Linked DNA regions of Homo sapiens: all the other regions are linked to region 1. A link means that fine-mapping ties the variant in region 1 to the expression of a gene that starts in the linked region. Tissue or cell type: monocytes. Region 1 holds a variant in brackets; each other region holds the start of a gene. All regions are shown on one strand. Distances are from middle to middle.

Region 1 (8,182 bases):
CACTCACAGAAGAGTAGAGATGAGAGGCAGAGAGACTAGTTGTGTTCAGGTCTCTGCTTCCAGCTTGCTCCTGGGGTCCCACTATTTCTTGCCATTAGGTTTTTGCGATCCAGTCCTTACAATCAGGTGTCCTGCTTTGCTTAACTTAATTTTAGTAAGATTCTTACTTATAACCAAAAGAATATAACTAATGTAGTCTGTTAAAGACACTAAAATCCTGTTTGCCACATTTATGGTAAAATTTTTAGTATAATGATTTGTTATATAAACAAAAACATGGCAATATCATTCTTAGCCTATAGGCTTTTTAAGTGAAAAAGAAAACTATAATTTCTCCTCCTTCTCCACCATCTTCTTCCCATCTTCCTCTTTCTTCTTTTCTGAATCTTCTTCCTTTTTTTTGGTGCTCTTGGAGCCTAGAACAATGATGGGCATTAATAGATGCTCAATTAATGTTTATTGACCTAAACTGAACATAAATAAATAGGAAAATAAGAAAGAAATTCCTCCACAATCTCACCACTACATGAATAAAACTCTTTTCAGTCATCCCTGTACTTACCATTGTCCACATTCTTCCGTCATTTTTATTTTTCTGCAATCCCAGGATAGACCCAGTTTTGATTCCTACCTTTGTTCAATAACACTGTATTATAAATACATTTCCATGATGGTCACAGCCTTTAAAATTGCAATTATTATTGTTGCTTCAATAACAGGAAAAGATAAATGTAGAAAGTATTTTTTATTGAATATTTCATAAGGCCAAACAGAAATGGAAAGTGCTTTCATTATAGTCAACAAGCCAAATCTCTGGCTTTTCTCTTGCTTCATTGCCTTTCCCTGAGAAACCACATCCTGCACAAATCCAACTCTGCTCTTACTCCACGCCTGTTCCCGTGCTGCTGAACCAGGCTGGAAGAAAAACACAGCCACACATGCCTGTCTCACTTTCACTTCCTGACCACTCACCCCAAGAAGGCTCATAATGCTGCGTAGCAATCATTCTATATTTCTCTAATCTATTTACTCTCCCTTCTCTTAGGCGATTCTTTGCATTCTTTAACCTCCAAACTCTGACGCTGCCTCCTCCAGCCTCTCTCTCAGGGGATAACTACATATTCTTTCACTGAGAAATGAGAGACAATGAAAAGAGACTTCACAAGGCCCCGGTGCCACCTCTCATCTACCTCCATTTGTTCTGATATACTCTACTTTCCCTCTAGTTATTAAGAATGAATTGAACATGCTGCCCTTTCAGGCCTGTCCTTTCTCGGCACTGATTCTATCCTCTCACCAGCTCAAGGATTTTCCTCCAGCAATTCCCTACCATTTCCACTATCCCCATCTCTTGAAACAGTATTCTTTTCCTCTTTACTTGACTCTTCTCATTAGACTACAAATGTGCTGTTACCACTTGCCTACACACACACACATGCGCATGCACACACACACACACACACACACACCTCAAAAAACTTCACCATCTATCTATTGCTCCATTTCTTGTCTTCCTTGTCAAGCAAAATTCTGTGAGTCTAGTGGTTCTCAAAGTGTGGTATAAGTACCAGCAGCATTAGCATCATCTGGGAGCTTGTAAGAAATACATATTCTTGGGCCTTACTCCAAATTTACTGAATCAAAAATTCTGGGTGTGGGCCCAGCAATCTGTGCTTTAACAAGCCTGCAGGTGATTGTGATCTATACTGAATGTTGGGAACCACTGTTTACGTATAGTTGTTGACTCCAATTTCTCTTCTCTCATTCTCTTTGAAACACACTCCAGCCAAGCTTTAGGTTCCCCTGTTTCACAGAAATTCCTCTGTCAAGGTCAAGAATGATCTTCATTGGTGGGACCAGGTTTCTCATTGTCAGAGAGTAAAGTTACAGATGAGCAAGACAGGAAGGCTAGAATGAACTCTGTGGTACTGGGTTAAGGTCAGAGATGTCAGTGTGGACTTATGTTTAGCTGAATATATAATTTCTGTCTTAGCTAGATGTCTCCCTTGGCCCCAGCCTTGTGTACCCAACCGTCTACTTGAAATCTCAATTCAGATGTCAACACGCAACTAAAATTTAACCTGACTAAAACAAAGCTACTGGTATCTCCTTCACAGGCTTGCTCTTCCTGCAGTCGTCACTATTTTCATGAATGGCAATTGCATCCTTTTGGTTGCTCAAGTCAAAAACCTTGGAAGTCTATCTTAGTCTGTTTTGTGTTGCTAAAACAGAATACCAGAGACTCCGTAATTTATAAAGAAAAGATGCTAATTTGGCTTATGACTCTGGTGGCTGGGTGGTTCAAGATTGGGCAGCTGCCTCTGGTGAAGGCCTCTTGTTGCTTCTACTCATGGTGGAAAGTAGAAGGGGAGTGAAGAGGAGTGAAGTTTGCAAAGAGATCACATTGGGAGAGGGGAAGCAAGAGAAACCAAGGAAGCCAGACTCTTTTTAAGAACCTTTTTTTGCAGGAATGAATCCATTCCTGAGAGAGCAAGTGCTCACCTCCATGGGAGAACATTAATCTGTCCATGAAGGAATCCCCCCCAGCCTCAATGACTCAAAGACCTCCCACTAGTCCATATGACTTACATTGCCACATTGGGAATCAAATTTCAGCATGAGTTTGTGCAGGGACAGACTAAATCCAAAACATAGCAGAGTCATTTTTGACTTTTCTTTTACCTTATGTGCAGTCTTTTCAGTCCTACTTTCAAAATATACTCCGAACCCAGTCACTCCTCACCACCTCCTTTGCTACCCAGGTCCAAACCACCATCATTTCTTGCCTAGATTACGGAAGCCGATTCCTAACTGGTCTCCCTGCTTCTGCCCTTGCCTCTCTTCATGTGTTCTCAACACAGCAGCAAGTGTTCCTGTCAGTTTGTAAGTCAGATCATGCCAAAATCTGCTCAGAATTCTTTATTGAGTTCTCAATACTCTCAGAGTTAAAGTCAAATCCTTTCCATTGCTAACTGGTCCCTGTGTGATCTATTCACTTTGCAATGCTGTCTGACTTGAAATCCTGCTACTTTCGGTCTCCAGTCCAGCTACTAAGACCTCATGGCTGTTCTTCAACAATCCAAGCATATGACTCCCTGAGGATCTTTGTACTCATTGCATTATTTGCTGAGAACACTAAGTGTGTGATAATTTGTTATGCAACAGTAGAAAACCAATGCAGATTAAATCACATGAAATTGCCAGTAGTTCAAAAGTAATATATGACCTCCAAGATGGCAATTTCTTGTGATTCTATGTAATGAATTGCAACAGTCATCTTTACTCCCAACACCCCCTTTTCCTTTCCCTGCTTATTTCCCCTCAGATAATTGGATCACCATCTAGTTTACTATTTTTCTTATGTATTCTGGTTATAAGTTGTTTCTTCCCACAGCAAGGTAATCAGATACCTCTATCTGCTTTGTTCATGCTGTTGTCCCAGTGCCTAGAGGAGTGCCTGACATACAGTAGATACTTAGTAAATGTTTGTCAAATGTTGCATGAGTGAATGAAGGTAAGCGGAGGAGATGGGAATTTGAGCAACATGAACCACTTTGTTGGACAAAAACTCAAACTGAAAATCTGATGGGAACTTGAAAAAGCCAGGAGCTCTGTATTCATCCTTAAACTTTGGAGTTTCCAGAATCCGACATTCTGGAGAATTTCAGTTTCTGTGCTGAAATGCCTTCAATTCAACACAAAACAACTAAAATAGAAAAATACAAAGTTCTCAGAGTAGGAATTCTGGGAAATACAATTGAAGCTGAGGTTTGGGTGGGGACACAGCCAAACCATGTCAAGGAGTATGTAGAAATATGCTGAAGTATATATTAAATTAAGTGGCGAAATCAAAATAATACCCATATTAAAATTGTAGCCGTTTTGAAAACACGTATCAAGTACTACTTGGCTTTCAAAAGAGACAAATCTTATCATCTGCAACAGCATGGATGAAACTGGAAGATATTATGCCTGGCCTCAGAAGGCCAGGTCAAAAAGTCTAGCAGCTAAATTTAGAGAGCTAGAAA[T/C]GGAAACAGCAGCAATCAAATGGCTACTTTCCTTCCTCAATTTGAGGTCAATGGCAGGATGGAGGAAGGAAACTGCAGCTTCTGAGAACAGGCTGAGCACTGGGTGGCAAGTCCCCGTTTCTGTGGGCAGCATGCTCTCAGCCTCAGCTCCTGGGCCAGGCAGACGCCTGTGGGTGGGCTGGGACACTTTAGATTGGGTTGGGGAGAGTCTATTTATCAAAAATGAGATCCATCTGCAAGAGGAGGGATCTCTTCCAATGTTATTGAAGTTTTCCAGTCCATCTAAGGTAAATTTTCTTCCTTAAGTAGATGGTATGCATTTTTAAAACATGGCATTAAGTATCTACATGTTTTCTTTAGCAGAGTATCGTACCTGAGCACAGATATCTTCTTAGTCTACCTTCAGAAAGTCTCTGGAGCATTCAGGCTAGAATTTAATATCCTTCGTGCCCATATTCTCCTTTTTTAAATAGCTTATTATCTTTGCAAAGAAAAGTTTATCTAGACTGCTGCAGGAAATTGAAGGGTTAATCCTATCCCTTACTCATATTGGCTATTGAAATCATTTCCCAATATTGTGTCCAATTATTACCTCTATGTATGTATGTATGTATGTATGTATGTATGTATGTATCTATCTATCTATCTATCTATCTATCTATCTATCTATCTTTTCTAACAAGTTGTAGTTATTCACATTTATGGAGTATAATGTGATATTTTGATATAGATCAATGTGGCATGATCTATTTAAGCTAATTAACTTATCCATCATCTGACTTACCTATCATTTTTTACACTGAGACATCTGAAATTTACTCTTACTTATTATTAAATATATAGTACATTATTTTGACTATAGTAATCTTAATTGCAGTAAACCTAGTCCTCCTGTCTGTCTGAAACTTTATACCTTTTGATCAGTAATTCTCCATTCCCTTCTTCTCCACCCCACAGCGTCTGGTGACCATTGTTCTACTCTCTAATTCTTTGAGTTCACCTTCTTTTAGATTCCACACATGAGTAAGATCAGGCAGTATTTGTCTTTCTGTGCCTGGCATATTTCACTCAGCATAATATCTTCCAGATTCATCCATGTTGTTGCAAATGACAAGATTTCTCTCTTTTTAAAGGCAAAGTGGTACTTGATATGTGTTTTAAAAATATCTACAATTTTAATATAGATATTATTTTGATCTCCCCAATTAATTTAATACATAATTTGTCATATTTCTACATACTCCTTGAAATGGTTTGTCTGTGTCCCCACCTAAATCTCTACTTGAATTGTATCTCCCAGAATTCCCACGTGTTGTGGGAGAGACCCAGGGGGAGGTAATTGAATCCTGGGTGCCAATCTTTCCCCTGCTGTTCTCGTGATAGTGAATAAGTCTCATGAGATCTGGTGGGTTTATCAGGGGTTTCTGCTTTTGCTTCATCCCCATTTTCACTTGCTGCTGCCATGTAAGAAATGCCTTTCATCTCCTACCATGATTCTGAGGCCTCCCTAGCCATGTGGAACTGTAAGTCCAATTAAATCTCTTATTCTTCTCAGTCTCAGATATGTCTTTATCAGCAGCGTGAATTTGGACTAATACAGTGAATTGGTACCAGTAGAGTGGGGCATTACTGAAAAGATACCTGAAAATGTGGAAGTGACTTTGGAACTGGGTAACAGGCAGAGGCTGAAACAGTTTGGAGGGCTCAGAAGAAGACAGGAAAATGTGGGAAAGTTTGGAACCTCCTAGAGATTTGTTGAATGGCTTTGACAAAAATGCTGATAGTGATATGAACAATAAGGTCCAGGCTGAGGTGGTCTCATATAGAGATGAGGAACTTGTTGGGAATTGGAGCAAAAGTGACTCTTGTTATGTTTTAGCAAAGAGGCTGGCTGCATTTTGCCCCTGCCCTAGAGATTTTGGGACTTTGATCTTGAGAGAGATGATTTAGGGTATCTGGCAGAAGAAATTTCTAAGCAACAAAGCATTCAAAAGGTGACTTGGGTGCTGTTAAAAGCATACCATTTTAAAAGAGAAACAGAGCATAAAAGTTGGAAAATTTGTAGCCCGATGATGCCGTAGAAAAGAAAAACCCATTTTTTGAGGAGAAATTCAAACCAGTTGCAGAAATTTGCATAAGTAGCAAGCAGCCTAATGTTAATCCCCAAGACCATGGGGAAAATGTCTTTGGGCCATGTCAGAGAACTTCACGGCAGTCCCTCCCAGCACAGGCCCAGAGGCCTAGGAGGAAAAAGTGGTTTTGTAGGCCAGGCCCAGAGTCCCAGCCTAGGGACTTGGTGCAGCCTAGGGACTTGGTGCCCTGTGTCCCAGCTGCTCCAGCTGTGGCTGAAAGGGGCCAACATTTAGCTCTGACCGTGGCTTCAGAGGGTGGAAGCCCCAAGCCTTGGCAGCTTCCACGTGGTGTTGAGCCTGTGGGTGCACAGAAGTCAGGAACTGAGGTTTGGGAACCTCTGCCTAGATTTCAGAAGATGTATGGAAATGTCTGGATGCCCAGGCAAAAGTTTGCTGCAGGGGCAGGGCCCTCATGGAGAACCTCTGCTAGGGCAGTGTGGAAGGGGAATGTGGGGTTGGAGCCCTCACACAGAGTCCCTACTGGGGCACTGCCTAGTGGAACTGTGAAAAGAGGGCCACCGTCCTCCAGACCCCAGAATGGTAGATCCACCAACAGCTTGCACTGTGTGCCTGGAAAAGCCTCAGACACTCAATGCCAGCCCGTGAGAGCAGCCGGGTGGGAGGCTGTACCCTGCAAAGCCACAGGGGCGGAGCTGCCCAAGACCATGGGAACCCACTTCTTGCATCAGTGTGACCTGTATTTGAGACCTGGAGTCAAAGGAGATCATTTCGGAGCTTTAAAATTTGACCACCCCACTGGATTTTGGACTTGCTTGGGCCCTGTAGCCCTTTTGTTTTGGCCAATTTCTCTTATTTGGAATGGCTGTATTTACCCAATACTGTACCCCCATTGTATCTAGGAAGTAACTATGTTGCTTTTGATTTTACAGGCTCATAGGTGGAAGGGTCTTACTTTGTCTCAGATGAGACTTTGGACTATGGACTTCTGGGTTAATGCTGAAATGAGTTAAGACTTTGGGGGACTGTTGGGAAGGCATGACTGGTTTTGAAATATGAGGACATGAGATTTGCAGGGGCCAGGGGTGGAATGATATGGTGTGGCTGTGTCCCCACTCAAATCTCAACTTGAATTTTATCTCCCAGAATTCCCACATGTTGTGGGAGGGACCCAGGAGAAGGTAATTGAACCATGGGCATTGGTCTTTCCCATGCTATTCTCCTGAGAGTGGGGAAGTCTCACAAGATCTGATGGTTTTATCAGGGGTTTCTGCTTTTGTTTCTTCCTCATTTTCTCTTGCTGCCACCATGTAAGAAGGGCCTTTCACCTCCTGCCATGATTCTGAGGCCTCCCCAGCCATGTGGAACTATAAGACCAATTAAACTTCTTTTTCTTCTCAGTCTCGGGTATGTCTCTATCAGCAGCATGAAAACAGATTAATACACTCCGCATAATAATGTCAGTAACTGTGCAAGATTCCCCAAGATTAACATATGGCCATTTCAATTTTTTTGGCCTTTTTATTGTAAATCATACTTTAGCACCCAACTTAATAGACTCTCCTCCTTTCCCAGATGGGAGTATGCAGAGCCAGCTCTAAGTGTTAACAGAATAACTAGTGGCTTATTTGATGCAAAAGGAGACCAATTTCCTAACTCCTTTCTCAAATTTCTCCACTGGCCTGCCGTATTGCCTAAAATTCCCGTAATTGGAAAATTCAGGTTAAGACTTAAACTTCAGCTGAATCCATATTATTATTTTTATTTGGAAGGACAACACATAAGTAATTATCATCCATTAATTCTCTATTACTAATCAGTGTATTTGATTGACTTCTCAGTCACCAGGCAGACATTGAAGAAATGGGACTGGGACAGTCAGATTTTGACAGGGCGCTACGGGCAGTATCTTTGCAGGTGTAAATGTGTCTCAGGAGAGGGAACCCTGGGTGACTGGGTCCATCTGAGTAGCCCAAGATTCATGGCTAACAATGAGGCTCTAAGAAGAAGAGTCTTGTTCTGAGGGTGGATGCCCCACCCTTGAAATTGGCTTCCTTATGTTTC
Region 2 (8,182 bases), 54 kb before region 1:
CTGTGTAATCCTAAAGCAGTGATGCCCGTGACCGTGGAGTCTGGAGACTGGCCTTAGCTGATCCCCACGAATGTCAATGAAGAAATAATTAGTTAACACTATTTCTTTCTCTAAAGGCAATATATAAGATCTCATTAAACCCAAGTTTTTTCTTCAGTAATCAGTTTTTGGTCCCTGTTGTGTAATTTTTTTTTTTTTTTTTTTTTTTTTGTGGTGGGGATGTTGAATTCATAGTGATAAAATTCTGCTGAAAATATTGAATGGAGGGGTCTGATGGAGGATTTAATCTCCAGCAGCACCCATGTAAAGTTCAGGACACTCATAAAAGCATAAAAACATTTTTGGAGTTTAAAAGAGACACACTCGTAAAATAAAGGACATGGGTCAATATCTCATGAATCACCGGCACTTGTTAAGACTGGGGGTTAAATGTTCTCTGTGTAGAGCATTTGGTAACTATCTGTTCATACTCTACCAGGCAGCATGTGCTAGTGAAAGGGGCTCGGGACTCAGTACTGGAGATGGGGCCACAGTTGCCTACTGCCACTAAATGACTGAGTGCTCCCAGCCAAGTCACCTGTTCCTTTAAACCTCAGTTTTCTCACCTGCAAAACAAGGGATCTGAGCCACATGATGTATCCATCCACCTACATTTCATTTCTTTATTGAGCACCTACCAGTTCCCAGGATGTAACGGTAAGCTCACTGACACATGGCCTCAGCCTTCCTAAACAGTCTAGTACATAGGGTAGGTAGGGGTGGAGGCCAGCAGACAATGACCCATAAAGTGCTTTCTCGCTTTCAATGTTTAAAGTGTTGCCCAAATGCCAATTATTTAAGCACTATCTTCCTAATTTTTACCTATCCCCATACTATTTTATCATGCCCTCTTAAATTTTACATATCACCTCAACATTTTGATGTTTTTATTTAATTGCTTCACTTTTAAAAATTAAATAAGTGTGTTAAAGAAGGAAACTTTCTTTCATTCCCTTGCACAAGAAGCTATCATCACTTGCCTTGAATAGAAGGTACCTGAAAAGCTGTATATAATGAAAACAGAACAATGTGATTAAATTCTAGCTGGATACTGTTGCCTAACAAAGGTCCTCTTTCTTTCACTAAAAAGCTATCAGAGAGGTGTTAGACACAGTTGTACCAAACTGAGATCTGCTCCTGGATGTAACCAAAGGTTGCGAGAGCAGTGAAACCTTTCCCATTAGTTCATTCTATTGAAGGCTGCGCAGGGAGACATGCAGCCTACGGATGAGTAGACCATCCCGGCCAAACTCCATGGCTGGTGAAGCCAGAAGTGTGCATAGCAGAAATCACACTTAAGACCAAGTTAGGTTGAGCCCTTGGCTCACGCCTATAATCCCAGCACTTTGGGAGGCTGAGGCAGGCGGATCACTTGAGGCCAGGAGTTCGGGACTAGCTCGGCCAACATGGCAAAACCCCGTCTCAACTAAAAATACAAAACTTAGCTGGGTGTGGTGGTGCACGCCTGTAACCCCAGTTACTCCGGAGGCTGAGGCATGACAATCGCTTGAACTCAGGAGGCAGAGGTTGCAGTGAGCCGAGATCACGCCACTGTACTCCAGCCTGGGCGACAGAGTGAGAGTCTGTCTCAAAACAAAAAACAAAAAACAAAAAAACAAGTTAGATTAGCCATGAATGAACATGCCAGCCAGCACTCATAATTTGAAAGCAGAGGTAAAGAGATGTGGGTGTAGACTGTCAGGAAGAAGATGGGAAAAGAAAAACCACTGTCTGTCTAAACCAGAGAACACCTGGACTCTTGAATATGCACCAAAGACCCTGGCAGAAATAAGGCACAGTGCTGGGCCCAAAAATACTGGTCAGACCCAGGATTACAAATCAAGATTTGGGGTCCATATGTCTCCCAGTGGGTTGGTCTAAATCAGGGGCAAGGGACTTAAAAAGACAACACAGACCAATGGGGGAGAAGGAAGGGATGCAGAATCAATGAGAAAGATATTCAAAAGGTCTGAGCTTGTTTCATCAGCAAAGAGAAGGAAACCTGGAAGGAGATGTTAAGGGTGGCTTCATTAAGATTGTGAAAATATAAAGAAAATTAACTCTGCCACCCACTCAGATGCCTGCCGTCTTCCATCCATCCATCCATTCATTAAGTCAACAAGTATTTAGTATCTACGAAATGCCAGGAACTGTTCTAGACACATGTATCAGTAAATAAAAAGGAAAATAATCCTTTACATTCAGGTGGGGGAAGACAGTAACAAACTTAGTCCTTGAGGTCACTGTGTTTTAACAGTGTTCTAAATGGAGTCTTTCTGTTTTGAGACTATTGTTCTCTTCAGCCATTAGGCTGTGATAAATATTTTTCTAAATGCTATGGAGTATAATTAAAAAATCCTGTAGGGCTCCAATAGGGGTTCACAAAGTCACTAAAGAACTTGATGTTGCTACATCCAATGATGAATATAATCAAGTCCCAGTCTTTTTATTACTCAGCTAGTCAATAACATTGGACACATCTCCCTGACCCTGCGCCACTGAAAGTCCCCAGGGTTCAGTTCTTGGCCAGCTTCTTTATCTACATGCACTCCTTTGGTGATCTCAACACCTTAGATCTTTAAGTACACCCACACAACAGTGATTCCCACAGTTAGATCTAAAGTCCCTCTCCTCTGAACTTCAGACTTGGACATCCAACCACCATCCACTGGATGACTAATTGGCTCGTCCAAGTCACCATATCCCACACTGAGCTTCTGAGGTTGTCTTCCAAATCTGCTCTATCTACTGCTTCCCCAAATCAGTTTGTGGCGACTCCCTCCTTCCAATTACTCAGGCCTAAAATCTTGAATCATCCTTGACTTCTCTCTTGTCTTCTTACACCCAACATCCAGTCCACAAACACATCTTTCTGACTCTACCTTCAAAATATTGCCAGCATATGACCACATTCTCTTTACCTGCATTGTTTCTGACTTCATCTCCCATCATGCTTCCCCTCACTCAGCCACAATGGGTTCCTTCCTGCTCCTTAAAGAAGCCAAGCCTTAGCTGGGCGCGGTGGCTCACGCCTGTAATCCCTGCACTTTGGGAGGCTGAGACGCATGGATCACCTGAGGTCAGGAGTTTGAGACCAGCCTCGCCAACATGATGAAACCCCGTCTCTACTAAAAATACAAAAAATTAGCTGTGCATGGTGGTGGGCGCCTATAATCCCAGCTACTTAGGAGCCTGAGGCAGGAGAATTGCTTGAACCCGGGAGGAGGAGGTTGCATTGAGCCAAGATTGCACCACTGCACTCCAGCCTGGGCAACAGGAGTGAAGCTCCGCCTCAAACAAAACAAAACAAAAAAAAAACAAAAGAAGCTAAGCCTCAGAACCATTGCACCTGCCATTCCCTCTGCCTGTCCTGCCCTTTCCTCAGCTATCCACATGGCAGGTTCCTCAAGTCTTGCAGGTCTTTGCTGAAACGCCACTCCCCCAGAGGAGACATCCCTGACCACTCTGCCTGGCACTCTTTGTTCCCCTTACTCCAGAGCATCTATCACCAACTCACACACTACATATATTCATTTACTCTGTCTCCCATACCAGAATGTAAATCCTTTGAGGGCAGGGATTTTATCTGTCCTGTTCGCTATATGACAATGACATAGAGTAAGGATTGAGCTCAATAATTACTGAGTACATGAATATCACAAGCTATACATCATAGGGATTAGGCCTCCCTCATCTGATTCAAGACTCAGAGGGGGTACATGAACTGCCCAGGCTCACACAGCCAGACAGCAACAGAACCAAGACCTAGGGCTCTTCACTCCTGTTACATCACACCATGGCAATGATTTTACATTCTCCAACTGATTCAAATCATATGGCAGCTAGGGATTTGGGGGCTCCATGTTTTATTTCAATTGCAGTTCAAGATTTCTTTTTATCTTTGTGGCTGAGAACCCTACAATAATTTTGGAAAGCAAAACCCATCTACCTGGAGTAAATCTTTAATATACACCTGACTACACAGGCCACAACATGGGCCGTTCCTGATTCAGAAAATTCTAGAAGGGTCCTATAGGCCCTTGAAGGTTATGATGTTTTAGCTGATCAAGTTCTGTCCTTTGCTGCCTGTGGTCGAATGGTACAGCAGCTGTCTTTTCTGATAAAGGGCACAGTTAGACTTTGGTTTAAACAGGAAGCCAAATGTTAACTCCTCAGTCTCCAGGTTAGCACACTGGGCTACCTCTGTGGTTTCCACAATTCTCTTCTTTCTTTCCAAACCCTCAGGAGCCACCCTCCATATTAACGCTGTCTCCTTCCAGGTTAAGCTGATGAAAGGAAGGGGAAAACGATTCACTTTCCAAAATTGAATCGGAGAAGTCCAGGGCCTCATAGGAGGAGGCCGCTGTGTGTCCAGATGGCCAAAGGTCTGTGAGAGCCTGGGCCGTGGTTTGCGTCCTCTCGCTAGAGGCCGTGCGCCCTCCCGCCTGGCCCCGACAAGGCGCCCCGAAACCTAGCCCCGCGCCGCTCGCTAGGCCTCCACCTGCGCGGCCCCGCAGCCGCCTGTTCAGGAGCGGCTTCCTCCCTGAGCCTGCGGTCGCCGCAGCCTCCCCGTCTTAGAGCGGGAACCCGGAGCTCGGATGCGGTCCCAGGATGGGCGCCCCGCGAGCAGGCTGGAGGGCGGGGAGAGGGCGCGGCAGCCGCGGGCCTCGGTTTCTTCATCTGCAAAGGGAAGGGTGGGGGGTCCCCAAGACCCCAGTCCACCGGCAGGGACGGCGACGCGTCCGGCCTCCGCCGCGCCCGCAACACTTGTCCCGGGCGCCCCCCGCCCTCTCCCGGACCTACTTCCCCGAGCCGCTCACGCCCATCACCAGCAGCGCGCCCGGCGCCGCCATAACCCAAGCTCGGCTCCTTCCCGTCGCCTTCCGGGCCCCGCCGGCCCCGGCCTACCCGGCGCTCGAGGGGCGGAGCCGCTCTCGCCCCGGCCGGGGCAGTGAGGGCCGTGCCCCTCTGCGCCCTCCCCGTTTTCCCGCGCCCCTTTTCCATGCTTTCCTCCTCCCTTTCCCAACCTCCCGGCCTCTCTCTCCTGCCCCTTCTTTTCCTCTCCCCTCCCCTCCCTCTTTCCTCTTCCCGGAAGTGAAGCGCGCGCCCGGCCTGGCACTCGCGTCTCCCTGGGCTGGAGGGAGCCGCCCAAAGCCCCGCCACCTGTCGTTCTACTGCCCCGGCCCCTCTTGGTTCCAGAGGATCCTCACCCTGGCAGGCCGGATCCTCATCCACCCATGGAAAGCATTCATTCATTCATTTATAAAAATGTTCTTGTAAAAAGAATAAACAGAAAATAAGACTCATAATTTCCCACACCAGGCAGCAATAAGCAGCACTTCCTAAAACGACTCCCCTTTCCCCGCGCCCCGTCGTAGATAGATGGGTATGAGTATTTTGTAAAACTGGGATCAGGCCGTACACAGCGTTTTGTAATCTGGCCTTTTGTCACAATAATAAATGGCGGCCATCTTTTGGTGTCAAACTTAGGGTTGAGTGTTGACCGTAGCAGCATATGTCTTGGCTGTATGGCTCTGCTGTTAAATCCAGCACTGGTTGGGGCTTTAAGAGGAAGGAGCACCACTTTAAAGTGTCCATTTGCTTTAAAACAATGTTAATTATGTGTCGTTTGAACTATTTGATTAAAAGCACTTCTTTTTTTTTTTGAGACGGAGTCTCGCTCTGTCGCCCAGGTGGGACTGCGGACTGCAGTGGCGCAATCTCGGCTCACTGCAAGCTCCGCTTCCCGGGTTCACGCCATTCTCCTGCCTCAGCCTCCCGAGTAGCTGGGACTACAGGCGCCCGCCACCGCGCCCGGCTAATTTTTTTTGTATTTTTAGTAGAGACGGGGTTTCACCTTGTTAGCCAGGATGGTCTCGATCTCCTGACCTCATGATCCACCCGCCTCGGCCTCCCAAAGTGATTAAAAGCACTTCTAACCGCATTTGGCATCACCTCCTTTGGTCTTTTGTTAACCAAGGTAGGTATTACTCTGTGTCCTAGAAAACAATAAAAGTGACATAAAAGCATTTATCTAATGAATAGTTCAATTACCCCTGCACTGCCTTTGTTTTTCATATACTTAGCCCGAGTAGGTGAGATTTCAATCTGGATGGGGGCTGTACAGGTGAAGAAATTGAGGCTTGGAGAGAGGTCTTACAATTCAGTTATGGTCAATACACATTTCTTGAACATCTACCATGTGCTGGTTAATATCATATTAATATTCATTTAAAAGATTACCCTCTAGGCATTCTCAAGCTTGATAAGAGGAATAGATGTGTATGCAAATACTCTTAACTCGTGCCCTGCTTCGCTAGCTCAGTATGAAAAAAAAAAGCTCATATTTCTTTCAATGTTCAAATCAGAATGATTAGCAGAAAATCTGATTCTTCTCCTTGGATTTCTTTCCCCAGACATGTCCAAGGATCTTAAACTTGCTGTGCTGCTCAGGGTGGTGGCAGGAAACAGCATGCTCAAATTGGGGCAGGTGAACAGGATTTAACAAAGGGACTATTAGCACAGGTGTGGGTAGGGTCAGAAAAAGCAACTAGGGGCAGAGTCCACATCTGAGTAACCGAGAAGTGTTTTCACTCTTAAATAGAAAGGGGCTGATGAGAGGGAGCCTTTATATGGGAAGGGAAGAGAATGGAAGGAGAGAGACAGAGAGAATAGACCATATAGAAAGAAGTGTCTGACAGGACTGTAGCCTTAGGAAGAGAGAGATAGACATTCCTTGTTGACCCAGCAGAAAAATAATCAGGAGAATAAATAACCTCCCCTCCCCTCCTCTTGCCCTGTGATCTCCTGCTCGTGGCCAAACCCCACCAGCCAAACCCAATTGGAAGGTGGAGAGCTAGGGAGTCCGGCGGTGCCCATGCATGCCAATTTCCTGGGCTCAGAGCAGGGAAGAGAAGGGTGGAGATTGTATCTGGAGGTACCAATGAAAGATACCCAGCATGCCAGTGTCAGTGAAACTCTGTGCCTGCTTCCAGGACAGCGGAACTTCAAAGGTGCCCCTAAGAGCTGAATTCCACGTTTTTTTTTTTGCTTTCCAAAGAGTGCCACCTGCTGGTCCTGGTTGTCTCGGTGCTTCCCAGCTGTTACTATGGGGCAACCCAGATGCTGAATATTGGTCTGGTTTTAGGTCCTGTCTACTGCAAGAACTGTTGTACTGAGGCACATGGTACTCTGGAAACCCCGAGTCCCTAGCGAGGCACAGCTTCTTGCATGCGTTTCTATAGTCACTCAAGTCCAGATCACCCCCAGATTCTGGACAGCATGTACTGTAAGTCTCAAACAGAAATGGCAGCGCTCCTGTATGAAGCTGACCATTTCCACAGCGGTTAAACAGAGCTCAGTGACGAGCACCTTAATGCGCACAGGCACTTCCCTGGGAGGCAAATCATCCACAAAGATGGCTGGGTTGGGACAGATATTCACATACCAGGAGCCTCACAGCTCTGATATGTCTAATTGAGAAGAGTTTGGATCTTCCCCCTTTCCCTTCCAGGAGAGTCCTTGATCCCAGTTTAATTCTGAGAGTTCAAATAGATGCATGAAAGAGCTTAAAAGTCAAATCCCAGGTCTTAGCCAAGTAGCTTGTTACACTTTCTTCTGGAAGTAATGGCTGTATACTTGCTTCACATCTTCATAATTAAAAGTGGCCACTCTAAAGATCCAGAACAAAGTTTGCAGAAAGGCAAAATGGTATCTGTTATCTCAATAGATGTAAAACAAAAGCACTTCACAGAATTCAACTTCCCTTTGTGATCAAAATACTCAACAAACCAGGAATACAAAATTCCCAACTAGATAAAAAGTATCTGTGAAACCCCAGGTAACATCATACTTAATGGTGAAAAGACTGAATGTTTCTCCCTATGATCAGGAACAAGGCAAGAATGTCTTCTCTCACCGCTTCTATTCTACATTCTGTTAGAGGTTCTAGCCAGGGCAATTGGATAAGAAAAAGAAATAAAAGGCATCCAGATTGGAAAAGAATATGTAAAACTATCTCTATTTCCAGATCACATGATCTTGTTTATAGAAAACCTAAGGAATCCACAATAAACCTACTAGAGTTAATAAGTGAGATCAGGAAAGTGACAGGTTACAAGATCAGTGTATAAAATCAATTGTA
Region 3 (8,182 bases), 31 kb after region 1:
CTGCCTTGATCACTTTGGTTTTATATTAAGTCTTAAAGTCAGGTAATATCAGTCATCTGAGTTTGTTTTTCTTCAGTATTGTGTTAGCTACTCTGGGTTTTTGCCTTTCCATATAAACTTTAAAAAAAGTTTGCTGATATCCACAAAGTAACTAGCTCAGGTTTTGACTTGGGTTGCACTTAACCTATAGATCAATTTGGGAAGACCTGAAATCTTAACAGTATTGAGTCTTCCTATCCATGAACATGGAATAGCTCTCCATTTATTTAGTTCTTTGATTTCTTTCACCAGAGTCTTGTAGTTTTCCTCATAAAGATCTTGTGCATATTTTGTTAGATTTATACCTAAATATTTCTTTTTAAGTTATCAATTTTAATGGCTGTAAAAGTGCTTAAAATGAAAAAATTCAAGATGCAATATTTACAACCATCAATCTTTTGTGGGCAGGCCACCTGTTATCTATTTGTGGCTTACCAAAGTGTTATAACCCATTGGTTAGGCATATTTTTTGGTAAAGAATATCAGTTACTATCACTGAGCGTGAGACACTAATTAATCTCACCCATTGCCACTTCTTTAGTAAGAACTGGACTTGCAGCCACTGCTATGGCTGACATTCTAATGCCTCAAGTGGAGCCACCTTTCCTGTACTCAAATGTCCTCTGTTTGTTGCCTGTCATCCCAGCTACTTGGGAGGCTCAAGCAGGAGGATTGACTGGGGCCAGAAGTTCGAGACCAGCCTGAGCAACATAGTGGGACCCAATCGGTAAAAAATAATAATAATAATAAAAAATAAAAAAATGTTTCTGGTTGTCTTTGGGGGACAGGTTCAGATTTGGGAATATTTGTAGGGGGATTTTAGCCTGGCCTTTGTTCACCTGGTGTAGAAATCTTGTTTGTCCTATAGATCAAATTGAGTCCTAGTTGGATGCTTGGCCACCAGCAAAATCCCTATGAGTCACACCATTCTGAAGTCTACTTGGGTACCACTGCTTATGATTGTACCAAGCCCTCCCTGGCACTGAGGGTTAAGTCATGCACCACTATTTGTCTTCTGCCAGCCCAGGCTCTCATCCTTCCCATTTAAGTCAGGGAGCTCCTTTTGACTGCAGTGTCTTTCACAACCATCTCTTGCTACAAAGAACAGCCACTTTGGTGCTTTTCAAAGATGGCAGTCCTTCCTTTGCCAATGATTCTTTGAAAATCTTGGTGGATGCCCCCTCAGGGGACACAGTTAAAGAGAGGTAAGCTGGCCACATGTGGAAATACACTGCAATATTTCCATCTCCTTGATTCTTTGGATCTTTTCCTGTACATGTACCAGGGAATTTCCTTTTTCTCATCTTCATTTAGCTGAGTCCAGAAGTCAGTTAGTCAATTTAGATAGTACATTGAAACCAGAGTCATTGGGAAGTGAATTCAAATGGACAGATTCAGGTTTATTCACACATATACTCTTCAATGTAAATTAGCAGAATCTTGCAATTCTTTCTCTTCTTGGGGTTGACTTTATAGTTGGTCTCCTAGGGTGTGACTGAATCTGGTTCAAGTATTAAGAGTGAGAGTAGTCAGAGATGGTGGGAGAGGGGTGGGAGGAGATCGGCTTCCCTTTCCAAGGTAACTGCCTTAAGTGAGTTCCGAAGAGGATCTTCAAACAAAGCAGGAACAGCCTCGTTACATAAGGAAGAGGGCATGCTTCTGCTGCCAAGGGAGTTTGGGGGCTTGAGTGACTAGGAATCATTCAAGTTTTCTTTTATAGTCCTATTCTTATTCCCAGATTCCCACTCTTTCCTGCTGATAATTATAAAATCTTGTGAGGCCGATAATTCAATTGACTTTGTAATTTGGCGATTTGTAGATGAAATTGTGAATTTGGTTTTTCAGTTTTGGCCTTGTGGCTCAATTAACAAGATATTCTTTGAGCTCTGTTGTTTGTAAAAATACAGTTGTTTAAAAGTCATAAGCTGATAATTTAGGACTTAGTGCATCACTACTTTTCTTTCAGTGGTCCAGTTTTAAACTCATCCCTTGAGTTCATTCTTTGAGTTCTTCCTAATCTTCATATTATTATTATTATTGTTGACAATGGCCAGTTGGTTTCCCAGAGCCTTGTCTTCATTGGGTAGTTCAATCCAGGTGACCATACTTGGTAATTTACCTAGCTGTCATGCCAAGTGCTTCCAGAGCCTGTATTTTCATACTAGTTGAATCTCAGCCTTTATTCCTAATCAGGCCAGACAACCAATCTCAGATTCTTCTCATTTCTTCAAAATTCTGTTTCTTACAGTCCCACATTGGGTTATCTTTATTCTGTCTTTTTCACTACTGTCCTTGTTGGTCTTATTTTGCTTCCTTGGAATTTGGGGTAACAATTTTTGGGTATTGATATGACTCTTTTGGAGCCTAACGGTCACTATAATAGGATGGACAAGTGTGTGTGTGGTCTTAAAAGAAAAGCATGGACTGTTTGGCTGGTGACTTTTCTTTGATCTCTGGGCTGTCTGCTCTTTTGGCTAGCAGAGATGATCCAGTTTTCAACTTGGGGCAGGTCCCATCCCTGCCACCTCATATGTGCATATGGGGATTTACAGATTACAGCTGTAAGATGTCCTCCACTGACCCGGTGTCATACCAGCTTCCCAGCCACCTGTGGGATGAACAGGTGTTCTCTCCTTTGAAATGAGAAAAGAAATGGAGAGACTTTTCAAAGATCCCCAGGATTAGCCAGTAGCTGGGCCAAGAATGAAATCCACATCTTCCCATACCCTCAATACTGACCTCTCCATCAGGATCTGCCCTAACATTTGAAGGGCCCAGCTCAAGAGCCTACATGAATGCCCCATACTATCATCTAAATATTCATAAGCAATAGTCAGCTATTGAGTGCTACATAAAACATTCTCTATCCTCCTATCTTGACAAATTGTTGCAATTTGGAATTTCCAGGAGCAGATACTGAGACTGAGTTTGTCCTGTGTGGTATTTATTAGTGATCAACAGGGAGAGGAGGCAGGAGCAGGCAGAGAGAGAAGTCCAAATGCAATGCGGACTCCCCCAAACCTTAGCCAACCCCACTAGGTGTCCTAGAGAATATATGGCCCACCAGACTGTCCAGGGCAGGTAAAATTTGTGTGCCACTCTTCCTCGACCCCCAGGACAGGGCATATCTTTGGATGAGGGGACTCTATGCAGGCACAAACCTTGAAAAAGCTGACAGCTGGTCAACACCTCCTCTTCTAACAAATGTTCCTTCCTAATGACCTGTTCTGCTCCGGCAAGAGCAACAGGGTGAGAGGACTTCCATCTCTCCCAGCTCCTGGACATTCTAGTGCTCACATTCAAGCTCCATACCCCTGACTCAACAGCTGCTCCTGGCCACTCTCGGGCCTACGGTACCTGACACAGTGGCTCTAGCCACCTTGGGGACAACAGAGAGGCAGGATACCTCCTACCTTCAACACCCTGGAGGCGCGTGGGGAATTCCAGAGTCCTCAATACCCAGAGATTGGACTAAAACGGGATGGGGCACATCCGCTTTGCCATTAGACCTCTTAATTCCTGAGCAACCGGGAACTGGAGGAGGTCTGTAAAGCAGGGGAGTAGGATAGGAACCTATCCCTCTTGCTCGGGTCAAAGGTATGCTATCAAAGATCACACTAAGATGTTGGGAGATTTAAAGGAGGATTTGCACATGGAAGGCTCTTTTTTGGAGAAAGAGACTGAGTCCTAGCTAGCATTAAATAAAACAATGGCTTAAACAATCTCCATGAGTACCAGAGATTTTTACTATTAGCGATATTCCTGGTGTAGCCGTGTCAGGGCTGTCACTCTCTCTGTCACTCGCCCTGGGCCCAGCAATCCTTTCCCGAGGCGGAATCCCCCTGGCGGTGTGGGTCAGGATCGCTCTCCGTCCCCTACCCGCGCCAGGTCCCTGGAGCTGAGCAGAGCAGGGCGCTGTCGAGCGCGTTGGGGAGCCGGGGCCGGGACGAGCACAACCGGGAGCCCGAGCGACAGCGGCCAGGGGAGGGAGGAGGCGGTGAGGCTGAGGAAGGCAGTCGGGCCCAGCTTGACGCAGCGGCGGCTGCGACTGAGCAGGCCACCACCAGGGCACCCGGGCCAGCCGCGCCAGCCATCCCTCCGCCTCCTCCTTCAGCTGCTCGGCGCGCGTGGGAGTGAGTGCGTCGCGAGCCCGCCGGGGGTCTCAGGCTCTGGGCGTCCTCGGCGAGCGAGCCCGGGCAGAGGGAGGCGCACGAGCGCGCGCGACAGAAGGAGGCGGGGAAAGGAGGGGGCGAGGCGGAGGCGAGCGAACAGAGGGAGGGACCCGCCCGCCGCGCCCCGGCCGCTGGGCATGTGTGTCCGCAGGCGCCCGACGCTGCCGATGTCCCGGGGCTGAGCCGCGCCCAGGTGTCCCGGACAGTGCGTGCGAGCGTGTGTGTCCGCGCAGGCGAGCACCGCGCCGGCCCTGAGCCTCCCGCTCGCTCCCCACGGCCGCGGTGCATGTTCGCCTCCTGCCACTGTGTGCCGAGAGGCAGGAGGACCATGAAAATGATCCACTTTCGGAGCTCCAGCGTCAAATCGCTCAGCCAGGAGATGAGATGCACCATCCGGCTGCTGGACGACTCGGAGATCTCCTGCCACATCCAGGTGCGCGTGGAACCGGGCGAGGGCGCGGGGCACACGCCGGGAGCAGGGCGGGGGGCCTTTGCGGTGGGCATGCGAGAACAAGGAACCCACTCCCGGAGGGGATTGGGGGACTGCTAGAAAGCCAGATTTCGATTCCTCAGGCCTCTGAGGGTGGGGGGCCTTATCCTGGCATGGAGGGGCATGGTGCCCTGCAAGCGCCAGGCACGCGTTATCCGCGCCCAGTCTCCTTCCCCTCGCGTGCACCCTGCGCGCGCGTCTCACTGCGCCCGGGCTAGGGGCGCGGGGCAGCTGCCTCCGGAGGGACTCTGGCCCCTCTGGGCCCTACTCCGCCAGGAGATGGGAGCTCCGAGGGCTGAGAGGGGCACCTGCATGTCGCCCACTGGTATTTCCTCCCTTCTTCCACGTGGAGAAGGCATGCATCAGCTGGGTTCACTCATTTCTGTCTCCCGCGCCCAGGCTCCGGAGACGCCCTCAGTCCCGGAACCTGCTTTCCGCTCCGTGTCGGTCCCCCTCACCCTCCGCCGGTGGTCTTTAGTTCTCCGCGTGGGGCGGTGGCGAAGTTTCCCCAGAGTGAGAGAGGCCGGGCTGCCCTGGGCGCCAGCCTTGAGGGATGGAGCGCGCGCTGCGCCGGACTGGAGCTACCTCGAAAGGAATGTGTGAAGTCTGAGTGTTTCGGAGAAAGGAAAAGGGATTGTGAGGCCAGCAAGTGGGGAGCCCTGCAGGAACCTGGGTCCTGGGTAAAAGAGCCCCGTGGAATCTTGGTGGACATTCACTGTCGCCCAAGTTGGAGGAGAAGGCGAGTTGTTTGGGAGAAGGCAGCTTTGCTGGCAGCCCTGTCCTCGGGTAGTAAGTGCCTCTGGGCTGTCAGGAGAGCTAGTGTGAGGTGCAAAGGTGTGTGTGTGCATGTGGTTGCGCGTGCGTGTGCATATTTGCTGTGGGTGAATATGTAGGCAGGTGGGAGCCCCTCTTCCAGGACCCCAAAGATGCCCCACTCGGTGCGCACACAATCAGGAAAGGTTGTGTCAGGGCTCAGCACAATTAACTTCTGACTTCTAAATCTATTTAACTGTTTATCTCTGGGATTTCCTTTCTCACCTACCCTAGTCGAGTCTTGAGGCTCTGGGACTGAGCTTTTTTTTTTTTTTTTTTTTTTTAGTGTAATACAGGGCACACCACCCATGTCAGTGGGAGGTGAGTGGGGCAGCATCTCCCAGAGTAGGAATCAGCCTCTAGGCTGTGCAAACCATGAAGGAATGAAAGGACTTTCCCTGTTTTATTTTTATTTAATTTTTGTTAGTGGGAGTGTGTGACATGTTGGGGGCAGTTGCAATTAATTTGTAACCTGACAGCCGGACAAGTGTCAAGGTAGGAATGTGATGCCCCATGATCTCCCAGGAAAGTAGGCTCCCATTGAATTTTCTGGGGGAGCTTGAATTTCATTCTGAGCTAAGCAGCACTGCTAAACTTAATAATAAAAGGATTAGCAGGATAGGCAGTGTTTCTACTGCCACAAGGGTTGCACAGAAGCATCTGGCATGTACTAATAGTCTTGTGATCCAGAGAGTGTGGACTGTGCACTTTGCTTTAAGTCCTAAAGTGGGTGTACAGGTCCTTTAACCCATAATGAATGTGTAGATGATGGAGGGGCCGTCAGGGAGAGAGGCTGTTGAGTTCTCCTCTGTCTCTCAGCCCTCTTCTGCCCTGTACCACTTGGTGTTGACATTTTTTTCCCCTCCCTCAGGATGAAGTCTTCCTTAGAATAATAAATATTCCCCAAAGGACATGTATTTGTTGTCTTGTGTTTTGAGAAACAATAAATTGTAGCCAGTCTAACAACAGTTTGAAAAACTCCAGTGCTTATGACCCAACTAGTGCCAAAGAGGTTAAAATGTTATGTTTCAAAATGTTGGCTTGGGCACTGATTTTTAAAAAATTATGATGTTTCATTTTGTGATTTGTCTTTTTCTGCCCTTTCTGCCCCCAAATTACAATTATTATTTAACCAATTAAAATAAATTAAAATATTTTATTTGGATAACTTTAGACCTCACACTTTCCTAGAGTACTCCAGACCAGGAATTGAAATTGCCCTTCCGGGTATCAGGTAACAAAGACTTCCCATTTGCTTAGAGTGAGAACAAAAGGATTAAAAAACAATGCGAAACAAAACCATTTGGAATTACTGGCACTTGTTCTGGGTGAATCCATCTGTGTTTGCTTCCTTCCTTCTATAGAACTACAAAGTTAAAGGATTGTATATATTGTCACAGAATGTCACCCTCTCTCCATAGCCCACATCTGCCTGTCTGCGTTAGGAGCTCTCATCCCTGGTGTCTGCCTGGCTCTGGAGCAGGGGTGTCCAATTTTCTGGCTTCCCTGGGCCACATTGGAAGAAGAAGAATTGTCTTGGGCCACACATAAAATACACTAACGCTAACGATAGCTGATGAGCTAAAAAAAAAAAAATCACAAAAAGTCTCATAATGTTTTAAGAAAGTTTATGAATTTCTGTTGGGCTGCATCCAAAGCTGTCCTGGGCCATGGGTTGGATGAGCTTGATCTAGAGGCTCTGTAGGAGGAGCAGGAGCTCTTGGACATGTGTTAGTTGTTCACTCCTGTTCACTACAGGAGTGCTGCCTATGGAGCCCCAAAATAAGTAGGGGAAACTCAAGCCACACATCCTTGGGAGCTCATTAGTCTGTGTTCTCTAGTAGGTAAGCATTCCAGATTCAAAGAAAAATGAGCCACTCAAACAGGTTTCTCTAGCAAGGTGCTGGAGAGTGGCCACACATGGTAGATGCAAGAGATGATAGAAACCTTCAGGACTATTGCTTGAGACAATGTGAATAGCTCTAGGTGCCATTTCTTGAGCATCTCTCATGAGCCAGCCTTTTCCACTCATTATGTCTGATCTCTACCACCAACCTTTGAGTAGGTATTATTCCCTTCTTTTGGGTAAGAAAACTGAGAAGCTAATAACTTAAGTGACTTGTTCAAGGCCACATCTCTAAAAAGAGAATGAGCAGCTGGAATTCAAATCCAGAATTGTCTGGATCCAAAGCTTATGTATGTCTTTGACATATTACCCCATAGTTAAAATAGCTGAAGTTTCAATGAAATTTCCAGACATGGAAAGAGGTAAATCCAAGGTAGGGGAATTTAAACCAGTGACTGAAGGCCAGTTGGGATTCATGATCTGAATGGACAAAGCGACCCTATTTGCCAGTTTGCAAACTTAATGTGTCCTGGGTCTTCCAGGGAGGCTGGCATCTCAGAGCTGATTGGAATCCCACAATCCAAATGTCACTGGGGGCCATTTCCACCCCCCAGAAACATGGTATTTGCCTTTAAAGAAACTATATGCATAAATGCCTTGTTAGGTTTGATACACTGTGTCCTTATATTTCAGACAGTAGTAGCCCCAAATTATGCCTATGCATCAAAAGATGAACCAAGCCAGAAACTAAGGGAGAATTGCCTAGTTGTGCTCTGATTAGAGGGTGTGATGGTGAAAGGGCATGTGTTTTGTGCCTCTTCA

Direction of the effects. Alleles are on the strand shown, and positions count from the first base shown. SD is a standard deviation of normalised expression in the study named. Not every link is listed here.
As copies of T replace C in region 1, the expression in monocytes of the gene that starts at base 4,921 in region 2 goes up (moderate effect, 0.65 SD a copy in BLUEPRINT).

The links. PIP is the estimated chance that this variant, and not a neighbour inherited with it, causes the effect.
Region 2: it holds the start of IDNK, and the variant in region 1 is fine-mapped to the expression of IDNK in monocytes (TOPMed, PIP above 0.99).
Region 3: FRMD3 starts here. The variant in region 1 is fine-mapped to the expression of FRMD3 in monocytes (TOPMed, PIP above 0.99). The same link has a PIP of 0.9 or more in blood mononuclear cells and spleen.

Annotation. Positions count from the first base shown.
Region 1 is chr9:83,565,436-83,573,617 of GRCh38, reverse strand. It overlaps a transcript of FRMD3 not described here. Among named protein-coding and RNA genes, the nearest start is that of FRMD3, 31 kb to the right of the region's middle. The variant T/C (reference allele first, on the strand shown) is at 4,029.
Region 2 is chr9:83,619,882-83,628,063 of GRCh38, reverse strand. It overlaps IDNK (IDNK gluconokinase), which reads right to left and starts at 4,921. Exons shown (of 5, transcript NM_001001551.4): 1 at 4,843-4,921. The coding sequence starts at 4,892. RefSeq lists enhancers at 4,317-4,366, 4,387-4,516 and a silencer at 4,697-5,226.
Region 3 is chr9:83,534,547-83,542,728 of GRCh38, reverse strand. FRMD3 (FERM domain containing 3) reads left to right here and starts at 4,328. Exons shown (of 14, transcript NM_174938.6): 1 at 4,328-4,644. The coding sequence starts at 4,498. RefSeq lists a silencer at 6,081-6,375.